Regions from separate parts of the Homo sapiens genome. Here region 2 is linked to region 1. A link means that fine-mapping ties the variant in region 1 to the expression of a gene that starts in the linked region. Tissue or cell type: lymphoblastoid cells. Region 1 holds a variant in brackets; the other region holds the start of a gene. All regions are shown on one strand. Distances are between the middles of the regions.

What was found. PIP is the estimated chance that this variant, and not a neighbour inherited with it, causes the effect.
Region 2: BZW1 starts here. The variant in region 1 is fine-mapped to the expression of BZW1 in lymphoblastoid cells (TwinsUK, PIP 0.95).

Annotation. Positions count from the first base shown.
Region 1 is chr2:200,692,394-200,700,500 of GRCh38, forward strand. It overlaps the pseudogene AOX3P-AOX2P and the pseudogene AOX3P. Among named protein-coding and RNA genes, the nearest start is that of LINC01792, 39 kb to the right of the region's middle. The variant T/G (reference allele first, on the strand shown) is at 3,624.
Region 2 is chr2:200,808,611-200,816,717 of GRCh38, forward strand. It overlaps BZW1 (basic leucine zipper and W2 domains 1), which reads left to right and starts at 3,300. Exons shown (of 12, transcript NM_001207067.2): 1 at 3,300-3,380; 2 at 4,598-4,671; 3 at 6,731-6,907; 4 at 7,057-7,151; 5 at 7,715-7,780. The coding sequence starts at 4,608. It overlaps BZW1-AS1 (BZW1 antisense RNA 1), which reads right to left and starts at 3,560. Exons shown (of 4, transcript NR_110275.1): 1 at 3,175-3,560. RefSeq lists enhancers at 2,514-2,773, 3,622-4,137, 4,138-4,653 and silencers at 2,824-2,973, 3,504-3,873.

The DNA of each region.
Region 1 (8,107 bases):
GTGACACCAGCCTTGGCAAGATGGAACCTAGCTTGAATCCTAGCTCTGTAACTTTCCAGCTCCAGTTTAATTTCCTCCTTGGTATAACTGGGATAATATTTCAAGGAAATTGTTGGGAAGGCTAAATCATAGACATAAATGAGGTGCTGAAAGTTCCAAGTACAGTGACTGCACATAATAATTGCTTATTGAATGCCAGTTTTTCCTGGTAACTGATGTTCAGAATTGTCCTTAGAGCCAACTTTGGCAAGAGATGGCTCACAAAAGCTGTAGAAATTAGAAAATGTCCAAGAAATTTAAAATTTCTGTGTATACATTCTTTGACCCAGCAATTTCACCACCAGGAATCTACTCTAGGGGAGTAATTGAAGGTAAGTCAAATATTTATTATATACATAGATATTTGTCACAATGTTACTTATAATTACAAAAAAATTAGAGATAAACTAAATGTCCAACAATAGGGGATTGCTTAAGTATTTCATGGCATAACCATGTGATTGGAATTTATACTATCTTGGAAAATCTCTTTTGTGCAATATTTAAAGAATTTGAAAATAAAAATGGTTTGAAGTGAAAAAATTTAAAAATTGAGCACTCTGATACCAGATTTATAGAAAAAATGTATAAGCATAGTATAATCTCATATATACAGAGCAATTATAAAGAGTGGACGGAAATACACATAACATTGATAGTGGTTATCTCTACTTCATATGAAGTAATTTTATTCCCTTCTGTAGATTTTTCAGCAATTCTACATGATGTTTTTACATGAACATGCATTAATTTTATAATCATATGCAAAAAAAGTTTAAACAAAAAGAAATTCCTATGGATGGTACAGTAATTACAGCAGAAATACAATTCCCTCTAGAATCCAAATTTGCTTGATTCCTAGTTATATTTGAAAGGGTAGGGGGGACTTTAAAGACTGGTATAGACTGTTTACCCAGTGGACATCAAATATCACGGCCTGGAGTTACAGGAGGGTCAGGCCTCCCCCCAGCATTTGCAAGCGCAAAGCAAGAATATAAGGAGAAGACATCTCATTCTCTTCTCTTCCCACCCCAGTTCTGTTCCACATTGCTGGCATCACAGATTGAACACCCAACTCACCTGTCCAAGCTCCATCCATTCCCCAAACAGCTGCCCCTTGGCCACAGCTCAGGCCTAGGGGTGAGCTTCTAGATGGGTATCTGTCCTCTCTGGGAGGAGAGACTGCAGCAGAGGCCCACGTGGGCTGTGGAAGTAGATTTCGGGCCTTTTGGGAAGGAAATTCTGAGGCCATGAGTGCCAACAGCCTGTGGCTCAGCGATGGGGTACAGGCTGTTGGTGGAATGTCCCTTAACCCTGGGGTCTCCTTGCTCCTTGGAGATGGGCATGGTGACAGGGGGCCCAGCAACCTAGGGCCAAAGGGCAATACTGGGAATGGGCTCCTGGAAGCAACATTTGATGCCTCTGACACCAATAGAAATGTAAATAAGAACAAACTCCAGGATGGGGGCCTCATCTCTCAGAGGCATAAAAAATGACATTACAAAAAAACCTAGTATGGTACTTAATTTAAACATTACTCATTCTTCAGCTATTATTTTCCCTACTTCACCTCCCTGCAACGCATCAACTAATCATGCTGAAGTCCCAATAGAACTGGTAAACTGTACCAGCTGACAGTCAGAGCTGGCTTGGGAGGTTCTCGGCAGATCTGTTAGAAGCCATTTCTTACTTTAAGCTGAGATCTGCTGTCCTGCCACTTCCACATATGGGCTAACCCTGGGTAGACCTGTCCCTCATCTATGAGACAGCCCTTCCCATAGATGCAGCTGCTTTCATTCCCACTCGCTCTCTGCATTCATCCTCCCTGTTTCCTTTGTAGCTAAATTATCTGCATGCACTTTCTTCACCTAATGACTCATCCATTCCTGAGACTCCAGGTGACATCTCCATATGTTTTCTGAATCCATTTCTACTTCTGCTCTCTTTTCTGACCCTTCCCTTACATACCTGGTTCTGAGTTCATCGTAACCCTCACCTTACTCCACTAAACAACTCTCTCCTGACTTCCATATTAATGCTATTGGTACCCTTTTGCTTTTTCTCCCCTAGAGCCAAGGCTTGATGCTGGGCTCATGTAGCGGTCTGCAGGCTCATCTGTCCCTTGTCCTCTGCACTTGCACTCCCTGAGTCCAGACCATCTTCAATTACACTGCAATTATTACAACAGATTCTCTATACGGTCACCTTCCTTCCAACACCTCCCATGCAACCTAACTCATAGCAGGGTCTCAAATTTCCCAGAATTGCTTAGGAAGCTTCTTCAAGATGTTTTTGCCTGAGATTCCCCTCCATTTTACTGGATTAGAACCACCTGTAGTATGGCCCAGGACAAGCTCTGAACTTTTACAAACCTCCCCAGGTCATGGATGCGACCAGTCAGCAGGCCTGGAATTGGGAACTACTACATACCACAGTCAAATTCATCTTCTAGAAATATTGGTTCAGAAACTCAGAGTAACTCTCCCAGGCCCCAGAATTCTGTCTCAAATCTGAGGCCTGCTTTGAAGACTTTCCACAGTCCTGTCTGCCTCTCCCCAGTCTCCTACTAGCCTCCCCTGTGTCGCCAAGAGGATCTGCTTGACTTCTTTCTACACCCAGGGAACAGCTTCCCATCTGATTCTGTGCTGGTTCCATTCCCTGTCCTCTCCCTCCTCCCTCCCTTGCTCCTGAGGGATGGGAATGGTGAGAGAGGGCCACAGGACCCAGTGACCCAGGGTCTAAGGGCAATACCAGGAATGGCCTCCTTGAAGCAACGCTGGATGCTTCTGACACCAATAGAAAAGTAAGTAAGAACAAGCTCCCCCGGAGGAGCCTCTGCAGCCCTTTACTCCCTGGCTTCCTGGGGAGCTTGTGTTTGTACCACTCCTTGATGCTCAGCTCCTGCCACCCCTCCTTGCAGTTCATCTGTCTCCAGCTGCCAGTACAGAGCAGCTACTTAACAGCTGCCAGTTTCCTTCCGCTCCTCCCACCCCCGGCCTTCTCCAGCCAGAATGCAATTGCAGGGCTGGGCTGTCTCTCAGCACCCTGTGTCCCCAGTACCCAGTCCAGGCCCACCAGAGAGGAGAAACTCAACAGTAGGCTGTTAACAATCATGACACTCATCAAACTTTGACTTTGTTTTTACTGAAAAATTGAAACATTAATTTTTTCCCTTATGATTTGTACCAAATCGTATAAGAAAGAAGAATGTCAGCCTGTAGACCCAACCCAGGAACTTGCTATTTCCATCTGAACTAACGGTTATGTTCTTTCTTTTGATTTACTTCTGCTTTTATGCCAACTGCGAGGGAATAAACAGTCTCATCAGCCCATCTGCAGCTGTGCCTTTGCCACCTTCTGCCCCCAAGGAGGCCTTTGTACAACTGTCACCCTCAGGAACCTATGAAAAGCATTTTTCATCCCAGACTTGGCCCCAGGTGGACGCACCTTTTCCCTTATATTTCACCTCATGGAACTCCTCTCCCTCTGGTCCAGGGCAGGACCTTCGCACAGTCCATTCTGCCACACAAGCACCTTTATGAAGCCAGAAGGAAAAGCCAGGATGCGCGTGATGAGTAGGTAAG[T/G]GCGGTAACAGCCTTCCTGTCTCCCAGAGCAGCTCCGCACAGATTGACAGCATTTAACTGCCCCCTTTTCTTTTATTTTCTGAATATTTCCCTCAGGCATTCCTTGGACTCACCCGTATTTGTTTCACAAACTTCTTTTAGGAGACTTCCAAGTGCCAGGCACTGAGCTGGCCACTTGGGATACAGGAATGACAAACCAGTTGCCCCTAAGGAGCTCACAGGCCAATGAGGAGACAGACAGACCTGTCAGTAACCACCAGCAGCAGAACATGAAGAGGGTTATACATGGGACTTGCGACCCAGGCTCTGGGAGTATAGCGGAGAGCAAGAGTTAGGACACGGTGAGCATTCAGGGAGGCTTCACAAAGAGTTAAGCTGGAGATAAACTTCAATTATAAACACATGTTATCAAGATGTGACGAAGGAGAATAAATGGGACATGGAGAGGGAATTCTAGGCAAAGTAAAAGTCATGTGCATTGGTCTGTGGCTTTGCAGAATGTGGGAATTAAAAAGAAATCAAGCAATTCCAAATGATAAGGACATGTCATGTTAGAGAGTTGACTATGACACCCACATTCACCCCATAGTAGGAGGCTGGAAAGGAAGGTGGAGGCCAGGAGGTGGGACTTTAATTCAGATTGGATGGGCAGGAATTTTTTGCACAGGTAAGGGGGAGCCATTAAAGGACTTTGAATGGGGGAAAGTCATATCATATTTACTACTGTGAAAGATCCCTCTGGCTGTTGTATGGAGAAAAGATTGGGAGGAACACAAGTGAATGCAGGGTAACAGATGGTTACCACAGTGGCCCAGGAAAGGGTGACAAGAAGGAGGGTCAGGAGTGACTCCTAGACTTAGCATTTACATAGTAAGAGGCTGAGTTATGGATTCTGGAGTAGAACCACCTTTCAGGGGACAGATCAGGAATCTGGATTTTCACATACCAGTTTAAGATCCTTTTAAGAAATCCAAAGGGGAGTATCAAGTAGGTAGTTGAAAGCTCAGAGGAGAGGTCAAGGTGGGTTGTATAAATTTACATTTGATCATTGAGATCAAAACCAGGAGTACTGATGAGGGTGTAGTTGAGAAGAGACCCTGGGTCTAAGCCGGTGGAATTTCAAAGGCTCACGAATGGGTATTAGAATAAGTAGACCCAAGGGACTGAGAGTGAGAGGGTGGCAAGGGGGTGCAAGATTCAGAAGACTGGGGTATTCCGGAAGCAGTGGAAGAGTGTGTTTAAGAAGGAGATTTGTCAGGTCCGGGCGCAGTGGCTCAGACCTGTAATCCCAGCACTTTGGGAGGCCAAGGCGGGTGGGTCACCTCAGGTCAGGAGTTCGAGACCAGCCTGGCCAACATGGTGAAACCCCTCTCTACTAAAAATACAAAAAATTAGCTGGGCATGGTGGTGCATGCCTGTAGTCCCATAGTCCCAGCTACTGGGGAGGCTGAGGCAGGAGAATCACTTGAACCCAGGAGGTGGAGTTTGCAGTGAGCCAAGATCGCGCCACTGCACTCCAGCCTGGGCAACAGAGTAAGACTTCATCTCAAGAAAATAGAAGGAGATTGGTCAAATACAGCAAGTGTTGAGAGACCAAGTGGGATGAGAACTGAAAATACTGATGCAGATGTCGCTGTTAATCTTCACAAAAGCAGTAGGAGTGTGTTGAAGATAGAGAAGGAAAGAAATGAAGTCTGTGATGCAAAAAGAATTTTGCAAAATCTTTGCAAATTTTGCTGAGGGAGAGGCAATGGAAAGGGCAGTAGATGGAGGGGAACTGGGGACGAAGTTTGGGGTTTTGGCCTTCTTTATTAGTGGAAGGAGCTTGTGTAGTTTTAAATGTTGTTGGTAAGCCAAGCATGGTGGCTCATACCTGTAATCCCAGCACTTTGGGAGGCGGGAGACAGACAGATCACTAGAGCTCAGGAGTTTGAGACCAGCCTGGGAAACATGGTGAAATCCCATCTCTACAAAAAGTACAAAAATTAGCCCGGCATAGTGGCACACATCTGTAGTCCCAGCTACTCAGGAGGCTGAGATGGGAGGATTTCTGGAGCCTGGGATGGTCAAGGTTGCAGTGAACCAAGATCGTGCCACTGCACTCCAGCAGGCAATAGAGCCAGACTTTGTCTCAAAAAATAAAATTAAGTTAAATTAAACTAAACTAAAATAAATAAATTAATGTTGATGGGGGAGAATAAAATTAAAAGGCAGGGGCTGAATGTTTAAGAGATGGAAGAGATGAAGTCTAAAGCAATGATTAAGGAATGCCTTCTTCATTTCTTTCACTGAAACAATCCTTCCAATTCAAGAGGATCACCCTGTGCTCCCACAGAACTCTGTCCTTCCCCTATAGGCTATTTCCATTCCCAGTTGACTGCCTATTTACTCCCTAGGTTGTGAACTCAAGCCAGCTCCACGAGGGCACTGTTGAGTGCTGCATTCACCATTGTGTCACAAATGCCTAACACAGTGATTCTCAACGTTTTTGTCTCAGGCTGCTTACACCCTTAAAATTATTAAGGACCCCAAAGAGCCTTGTTTATGTGGATTTTAAATATTGACATTTGTAGTATTTGATATTAAAACTGGAAAAGCATTTTAAACATTTATTCATTCGTTAATTTATTTAAAAGTAACAAGAGTAAACCCATTGCACATTAGCGTAAATAACATTGTTCATGAAAAGTAACTATATTTTTCCACAGGAAAACCAGTGAGAAGAGTGGCATTGTTTTACATTTTTGTAAATCTCTGTGATACAGGCTTAAAAGAAGGCAGCTGGAATCGTGTTATCTGCTTGTGCATTCAGCCAGTTGTGATGACACACGTTAAGCACCCTTTGTAAAGTTCTGTACACTCATGGGAGAATGAGAAGGATGAAGGCAAATAATCTCTTTCATTACAAAATAATTTTGACTTTGGGGCCCCTGGAGGTTTTATGGGGACCTCTATGTATCTCTAGACTACACTTTGAGAAGCGTTGGCCTCCCCTGATGAGAGGAACACATGCATTATTTCATTAATCAGAGTTGTAATCCATTCCCAGGGGCTCCCATCTCTCTGTCATCTTTCCAGCAAATCACATAACTTACAGCAACATTTACAGAACCTTATGATAAGGCAATTCTCACGTAGCTAATCTGCCTTTAATTATTACTCAATTTCCAGCAGCCTCTCCACCATGATTTTTGTTCAGTGTTGAAATCATTCAAAGTGAAATCATCTATGAAACTGGAAAATTCCACCAAAAGATCTGCCCTCTCAATAGCTCCCACAATGAACAAAATAATTTTTCATAAAGTATTTTTGCAGGGGTATCATCAAAGTTAATTTCAGATGAATTAAGCAATTCAATTCCTACTTGAGAAATGGTTCCCTTGTTCATTAGTAACTTGCAGAAATTGTTTAAACCATTCTTCTTCCAGGTGCGTGGGACTATTTCAGTTTCAGAGGACTCTGGCCAAGAAGCCTGGTGCCCTTGGGTTCATGGTCCTGTTCACATTAACCATTTGTGTCACCTTGGCCAGCTCACTTTCCCTCTTTGGGCCTCATTGTTTTTTTCTTCTGTAAAGCTAGATCAGTGGTTCTCAGATTTACTCATGTAATAAATGTGAAGGAGTGATCAGAAGTCAAAGGCTTTTCCTTGAATGCCATATTCTTTGTTGAGCACTATAAAAATAGTGGCAAATTTAATTAGACCTTGTGGAATAGTAACAATTTTAGACTTAGAAAATATTACCTTAATAGATGATCCTGTATGGAATCAAAACTGGGAGCACAGAGCTCATTAAAAAAGAAAAGAAGAGAAAAGAAAAAAAAGAAAAAGGCTATCCAATTAAGCATGGTCAACTATTTGCAAATTGCCCTCATAAATATTTATTTTATACTTGTTCATTTCATTTTATTGTCAGCTATCACAGCCATTGGTTTTAGAGAAATAGAGAAGAGGAAAACTTTGAAGAAATTCTGCCCATTAACTACATCTGCTAATTGAGAAAAGTCCAGTTTTCAACTGTAGCTGTGAGACTCCTCAATCTTGCTTGGGAAAAAATAATGGCCTGTGAGAGGAAGGTCCCCATCGGCTTCAGTTAATCTAATGTTCTATGTTTTTACTGTATTTCTGCTGTCCAACAATAGTTAGCCTTACTCCACACTTCAATGGGGTCGAAGAGCCACAGTGGCCCATACTTCAATGGCCTCTGAGAGCCAAAAGCACTTTCTATATCATCTAGTCAAATACCTAATTTCCAGATAAAGCAAGCCAGGCCTAGAGAGGTTCCAGGATTTTCCTAAACTCACCTAGCTACTTAGTGGCCAGGCCATGGTTAGAACCTGGGTCTCCTGGTGTACTCTGTGTTTTTCAATCCTACATGGTTGCCTGACAATAAATGCACACATAGTTAATTCTCTAGTAATGTGCTATATTCATTCATAACTTAGTCAATAATTATTTCTTCAGTTGGAAATTTGACATTAGACAA
Region 2 (8,107 bases), 120 kb after region 1:
TAAGCTTCTACAAGACTCAAAGCATAGGAATAAATACTTCCCCCAGCTCATTTTCCAAGGGCAACAATGTGCTTTTCAAAACAGGCCCTTGATATTCTTCTAGTTGTTAGGAATAAAAACCTATTGTCACTTGCTTTTAAAAAAGAAACACTTAGGTATCCATTCCCATCAATGAAGTTAAAAGCAGTAGCACATTCACATGTTGCACTTAGCACCTTTCTTTTTAAGTAGTTCAAAATTTTTAAATCCAAAAGTACTAAGGGGGATTCACAGCAATGGCAGAGTGAAGAAATCAGCATATCCTTTTTCCCAAAACAACCATAAAACTGGGCAAGGCTAGGCGTGATGATTCACACCTATAATCTCAGCACTTTGGGAGGCTGAGGCGGGAGGCTCACCTAAGGCCAGGAGTTTGAGACCAGCCTGGGCCACAAAGCAAAACCCCATCATCACCAAAAAAAAAAAAAAAAAATTAGCAGACTCAGTGGCTCATGCCTGTAGCCCAATTACAAAGAAGGAATGTGTTCACATCCATGACTAAGAAAGGCTTATGGGAAAAAAGCAGTAGTTGAGATAAGGCTTGAAACAATAGTGGGATTTTGACAGTGGAAAATGAGGGAAGGACATCTCAAGAAAGGTCAAGACAAGATGTGTCCTGTCTGACCAAAGCATAGAGTTCAATTGTTTGGAACCTTTTCCTACCATAATACAATTCACAAACAACGTTTCCCCTGCTAGCTGCACGGTGCCTATTCCCATGGGTGCACCCAAAAGCAGAGAAAAGATAAGTGGCAAGGTGTGGTCTGTAATCCCAACACTTCAGGAGGCCAAGGTGGGAGGATTATTTGAGGCCAGGAGTTCAGGAAAACCTTTAATCCACTTTACATTTTAAAGAAAATAATCTGCTTACTTTAATATCATTTTTAGTCAAAAATCATTTGCTACATACCCCACAATGATGGTAATAACAGGTTAAGAACCACAAATGTGATGGGAAGTAAAGGTGAAAAACATTGGTCAGAGCTATCCCTGAGTATAAACAGAGGCATTTAAACAGTGAAGAGAAATGATTCAGCTTGCAGTTGAGAAGATTGCTCTGGAAATGTTGAGAAAGGGGATAGTACAGTTAGGAAGTTATTGCAAAAGTCCCATTTAGTTAGGGGTAATAGATGCCTAAATCAAGATGGTACTGGGGAAAGATGATACAATTTTAAAACGTGGCAAAAATAGAAGATAAGCTTTGTGAGGCCATAGGCGTAACATGTCACTATCTCTACTGGTCTCTAGCTGAATAAATATTTGTTGAATGAATAAATAAGATCTTGGTGGTAAGGCGGTGCATTATAATGGTGAAGCCAGACTGCTTGGGTTCAACTGGACCTCTTCCACTTACTAGCGCTATGATCTTAGACAAGTTACCTGACCTCGATGCCTCGGCTTTTCCATCTGTAAAATGGGACTAATAATAGTGTCTAGATTACAGGGTAGTTTTCAGGATGAAATGGGGTTACTACATAAAGTGCATAGAAGAGGGCCTGATACATATAGGGACATATTAGTTATCATTTTTATTTGTGAAACGTTGTCCTTTAACAGAACTTCAGATGTGAAAAATACAGTTCTGGGGGAAGAGCAATTGACAGCACTGACAGTGTTAAATTAGCCATGAAGTGAAGATGCCAGATAGTGTGGACTGGGGCCTTGGGAGAAAGGAAGGGGCTAGACACTTAGAGATCAGACTCCAGCCACTTCCCTCTGCTCCCCACAGCCCTCCCAATCACACTAGCTTCTTGCAGTTCCTCCAACAGATGCAGTTTGTTTCCTGCCTCCTTCCCACTGCTGTTGCCTCAACTTGGAAGGGCATAGAGCCTGGATTTAACAAATATTTGCTTAATGATTCAGTAGATGATCTTGGAACTCTTTTAAGTGGAGTAAATGTTAAATCCTTGAGAATGTATGAGACTGCCATAGAAGAAAGTATCCAGAAAGAAAAGGTATCAGTACAGAAAAGAAGAGTCAGAAAATACCGTGCAAAGGCACATTCAGAACGTAACCAGGATAGCTGGAGCCAGGATTCAAGGAGAGAGGTAGGTAACATTCAATGCTCAGAGGAGGCAAACAGGGTGAAGAATAAAACACTGGGTTTGGCAATAATTTCAGGAACGAACGCTGAGAAAGTCATTTTTCCATGAAGTTGCGGGGGGGTGGGGTAGAGGTCAGATAGTTAATTAGGGAAAAGAAGTCAACAAACTATTTTATCAAAAGGTTTAGGGAAGAGAAGCCACTCTCCTCCTACCAGAGAGTGAGGAAGCAACTGGAGAGAAGTAAACTACTGTACAGTGAATAAAAACATGGGGCTACATCCTAGAGGCGCTGTGCATCTTTATCTGCACAGAGTTTTGTCACGTCCACAGTGCTTTTCACACGCACTATCTAATCTGATCGTACCCCAGCTCCCTGATGATATAGCCTCTAACTGAGGGGTTCTCAAGGTGCGGACCAGCAGCAGCATCACAGATAACTTGTTGGAAATGCACATTCATGGGTTCCACACCAGGCCTACAGAATGAGAAACTACGGGTGGGGCCCAGCAGTCTGTTATAACAAGTCCTCCAAGGGATTCTGATGCTCTCCAAGTCCCCATAGCCACCACACTCGGGAGACAACCGCTGCAGCGCGCAGGGACCGCGGTTGGAGGACAGAATTTCCCCTTCTCAATCTTCGGCCTGTGTCCTCTTCGCTCTTAAGGGAGGTAGTGAACAATGAGACAGCCCCTCAGAGAAAAGTCGCCAGGCAGGGGACTCAGCTGGAGCGAACTCCGCCCATCCCGGCCAGGGCGGAGGCGAGGTGCGGATTCCTTCCCCAAACCACGCCCCCATGCCCGCCCCCAGCCTCCGCCCCCGCACGACCCGAGGGCCCCCCGCCCTCGGGCTTCGACTTCCGGTGCTGGAGGAGGGGGCCGGCGGCGAGGGACTCCAGGAGGACGCGTCCAACTTCGAGACCGGCGGGGGCCGGCTCCGCTCTTCCAACCCCTCCATGTGTGAAGAGGGCGGACGACGCAGCGGGGGAAGAAAAATAAGCTAGTCTAGGACAAGTGTCCAGGCGACGTGGAACCCAGTAAGGGAATAAAGAAGACTGGAAACGTCTCTCCCCTCCCCTATCCCAGTCCCTCACCCTAATCCGCGCGCAATAGAAAAGGCGGAAGCGCCTGTCCACGATCAGGGCGGGGCAAGGGGAAGAAATCTCGCGATAGGAGAGCGGTCCGGGCGGGGGTGGCACCTCTCCCTCCTCCTGGCGTTAGTTCCGGTCGCAGAGGAGACACCGCCGCAGTTGCCGGTACATCGGGGATTTCTGGCTCTTTCCTCTTCGCCTTAAATTCGGTGAGACGCGGCGCCCCGCTCACCCCGGGCGGACGCTGCGGGTCGTGGACGCCGGGCAGAGGGAGAGGGAGGCGGCGGGCTGGATGCGGCCCGGCTTGGATGGGCCCGAACGGAGGTCGCCTCTTGAGGCCGGGCCGGATCTAGGGCCTGAAAGGCCGCCGCTTCGGCAGGGAGGCCGAGGGGTAGCGGCGGCCCGGGTGGGGAGGTGGGGTCCGGGTGTGCGCCGCGGCGCTGGCTGCGAAGGCAGTGGCCGAGGCGGGCTCCCTCTGGGCCGTGCCCGGCCTGGCTAACAAAGCCGCCGCGGCCTCTGTTGTGTGATGTACGCGTGGGGGCTTCCGGCGGGCGGGGCGGAGGGGCTGCCACCCACCACCGCTGCGGCCGCCGCCTCCGCCGCTGCTTTCGCTGGAGGGCGGGCGGATGTACGGGGCGCCTGGGGCCCCGGCGCAAAGCGCCTCAGTGACTGTGGTCCGCTCGTTGCGGCGGCCGCCACCGCAGGCGACAGGGTCAGTGGAGAAAGAGCCGCGGGACCCTACGGCGCCCCGCTGTGGCCGATGGGGTCCTGGGCGGGAAGCGGGTGATCTGTGGCTCGGGCGGGAGGCATGGGAAGGGTGTGGATTGGGAGACACGTTACCGGGGAGGAGGCTAGGACTGTGGGATATGGGCGAAGGAGGCTGGGCTGGCTGTTAGTTTTGCAGGCCTGAGTGGTGCAAGGCGGCCGCTGTTGCGGTCACAGGCATGACCTAGGGTAGGATGGTGCTGCCCGTAACCAGGCTTGTCAGAAGAAGGGGTTCACCTTTTGACAGTGTTTTAGAATTGGCATACACATTTTGGATGCCTGCTGACTATGGTGATAATCTCTCTTTGCGTTCTGCGATGCTTAGTGGTCGTGGAAGATGTAAGTGAATGTAAAGAGGAATGTGGAGAAAACTGAACAATTAGGTTTATGACGGGTGATCACTGTAGCACTACAATGTCGCTTAAAAGTAGTTCACAGCACTAATTTGAAGGGTTTCTTGTAGAGAGAAATGCACATTTTGACGTACATTTGATTCAAGTGCAGGTAATTCTTTGTGCCTGTATCGGGTATAATTGCCAGCTTTATATCCTGAGAGTGGGTGTTCCATTTGATTCATATGTGACTAGACTAAGGTTTGATGTTTTGCTTTAAAAATTAGTATTATGGCACTGATATTAAGGCTTTATTTCTCCTTTCCTAGGGTGTCTTTTATGAATAATCAAAAGCAGCAAAAGCCAACGCTATCAGGCCAGCGTTTTAAAACTAGAAAAAGAGGTAAATATTTACGTTTTAATGTCTCTCTTCAAACCTCCAGAACATCTTGTGTATCTTGCCTTCTCTGACAGGTACTTGCATATTACTAAAGCCTCAAAAGAAGATACCAGAAAGAAACTTGAATTTCTCGTTGACTGCCATTTCACATACACCTTTAATATTTCTACTGCTTTACTGCTCAAGCCTTAATTTTTAGTATCAATATATCTCTAAGCCGGTTAGTGAATCTTCTTTTCGGTGTGAAGGTAAAATATTTTTAAAAATAAAAATAAGGGCTCTGTTTTCACTAGCAGGCAGTCTCATTTAAGCAAACTTAAATGAGCAAAAATGTTAATTTATAAAAGGAGAACTCCTAATGTAGTCACCCAGATTTTGTGAAGATTTGTGAGAGAAAACTCAGACTTCACCCATGGAAGTTAATTGTGGAACAGGATTCACATTGTAATGTCTTTTGAAATACAGACTTAGTAGAAAAAGTATTAGAATTATATTACTATTTTTTTTTTGCATTAGTGTGTACTTAGGTGAGTATTGAATTCTGTAGCAAAGTGCTGTGCTAGTGATATAAAGCTAAATAAGACGTAGTCTCAGATATATTTTTACTGTTTTTGGTCAAAAGCATATTAACCTTGTTTTACAGGTGGTTTTGAGGAAATGAAGAACTAGGTCAGCTACTGGTTATAAGTTGTGTTTTTCTTTTTCTTCCTTAAGTAGCAGACATTTTGAGATATATATTGTAGAATTTTAAAATCACTAATCATAGGCTGTCTGTCCCCTTGTAGTAGTGGTGGGGAGACCAAAGTGTGATTTGATTCTAATCTTTGCAGATTCATTTAGATTTAGCTGGTAAATTTTCTTAAGGAGCTGGAGTTGTAAACTAGAACAGTTTGGCAGTAAAATGGGAAAGTGTATCTCTTGAATATGTGGGTTACTGATGTTACCTTGATACAAATAATAGCAAGTAGCTTTAGCATTCTTATTATTAGCATCAGGGAGAGATGTAACTTCCCCGGTTCCAGATAGAGATGATTCGTGGCCTGGCTGTTGATGGTTAGGGTACTGGGTAGGGTATACAACACTCCCTGTCTGGGACTGAGGGAGTTTCCAGACACAAGACTTTCAGTGCTAAAACCAGGAAAGTGCTGGGCACTCAGAGGTGTTTGTCACCCTAGTACTGTGTGAACAGATGTCATCTAGCCTAGATTGGGAAAGCAAAACCCTATTATGAAGTGTGTGAAAGCAACTCAGTAAAGGTCAGGTATGTGCACAAGGCTGTGGTCTGGGAGCTTTCTATTTTATTAATGTCATTTGGTATTTACAACAACTTTATGGGATAGGTACTATTCTTATCCCCATTTTACAGTAGGGGAATTCTGGCATGGCGAGTGAGACTATTTGCTTGAATTCAGGTGGTTAAATGGTGGTCAGGATTTGAATCAGGCAGTTTAACTCCAGAGCCCATGTACTGAACTACTACACAATATAGTCTCTTGATTACCTAATTTCTCTGACTCTCAGTTTTCCTTCTGAATAATAGGGGGAAAAATCTGCCTCACAAGGTTGTTAACAGGATTAAAGCAAATGCTTAATATAGTTTCTGTCATTGGGTGCTCATTAAATGTACTTTCTAAAGCTCACCTTCATAAATGCCAAAGGATTGGTTCAATTTTTTTGTTTGTTTAATATTATGGACATTTAAGGAAAAGGATCAAGAGCTCCAGTGTCTGGACAAAACCCAAAGGAATAAAATGTACCTGTTAGAGGATGGCCTAAATTTTGGAAAAGCCAAGAGGCAGTAGGAGGGCGTTCCCAGTAGAAATTGGCTTATGGCAGTAGGAACACAAGACACTAGCACATTTAGATCACTTGTGAAATTATTTGAAAAGTTGCACAATTCTTGTGAGTGGGCCATCTTGTCTTACACTTGCAGAGGGGAAACATGCAAAGGATGTGAATTTAATCTAACTTATTTAACAATTGCATCTTCATAAGGTGATAGTTTTGTGGCATTTTGGTAAATCTTTTAAAACTAAATGTTTTGGGTCCCTTGTCCCCCCAGATGAAAAAGAGAGGTTTGACCCTACTCAGTTTCAAGACTGTATTATTCAAGGCTTAACTGAAACCGGTACTGATTTGGAAGCAGTAGCTAAGTTTCTTGATGCTTCTGGAGCAAAACTTGATTACCGTCGATATGCAGAAACACTCTTTGACATTCTGGTGGCTGGTGGAATGCTGGGTAAGTGTCTGTGGTTTGTGGGCTTAATAATTTAGAAAGGTATAATATATGGAGATTATGGAGAGTCTAGAATATGAACTATTTGGCAAACTTGTTAAAATGGAGTGATTTTTTTGGTTTTGTTGTATTTTGGTTTTATCCAACTTTAGCCCCAGGTGGTACACTGGCAGATGACATGATGCGTACAGATGTCTGCGTGTTTGCAGCCCAAGAAGATCTAGAGACCATGCAAGCATTTGCTCAGGTAAATGAAACTTTACATAATTGTTTTCAGTTGGCTACTATCCATGTGGTATATTTGAGGAATATTCTACTTTTAAGAGTTGTGGTTAGAAAGTTGAAGGAATTTGATTTTAAATTTTAGGGATACTGTTCTTGGTGCAACGGGATGAATTAGAAACTTAAGGTGTGTTAAGGCGAACAAAATAGGGAAAAATGAAATTAACTCTTCTGTTCCTATTTGTCCTGAAATTACTCAATTTTTAAGAAAAATGTCAAGCTGGAAAAGTCAGTTTCGTATTGTGATTTCTCTAGTTTATCTGCATACATTTATTTTTAAAGTTAAATGAGTTGTGAGCTGATTAGCTTGTTAATCAAGATCTCATTGGAAAGTTTCATACGTAGTTATGTTTGTGTTACTGTAAGCAAAGAATTAAAGTACATCTAACCTGGACATTCTTATGTGTCACTAGGAATTCTTCTCAAGCTGGTTTAAGCAGCTCATAAACTTACATCGAGTGAAAGGTTTACTACTTTGCTATTCTAGAAATATATGAAGTTACTGAATTCATTTAATGTTCTTCATAGGTTTTTAACAAGTTAATCAGGCGCTACAAATACCTGGAGAAAGGTTTTGAAGATGAAGTAAAAAAGGTATGAGTAATAATGTACTTTGTGGAAAAGAAAAAAATAGGGTTAGAAAGAGGAATGTTAAATCCTAATTCCGCCACAGATTTGGAGTAATTTTGCTTGTTTGTTTGGGTTGTTTTTTGAGACAGAGCCTCACTCTGTGTCCCAGGCTGGGGGTGCAGTGGCTCAGTCTCAGCTCACTGCAGCCTTTGCCTCCCGGGTTCAAGCGATTCTCGTGCCTCAGCCTCCCGAGTAGCTGGGATTACAGGCATGTGCCACCATGCCCAGCTAATTTTCTGTTTTTAGTAGAGACAGGGTTTCACCATGTTGGCTAGGCTGGCCTTGAACTCC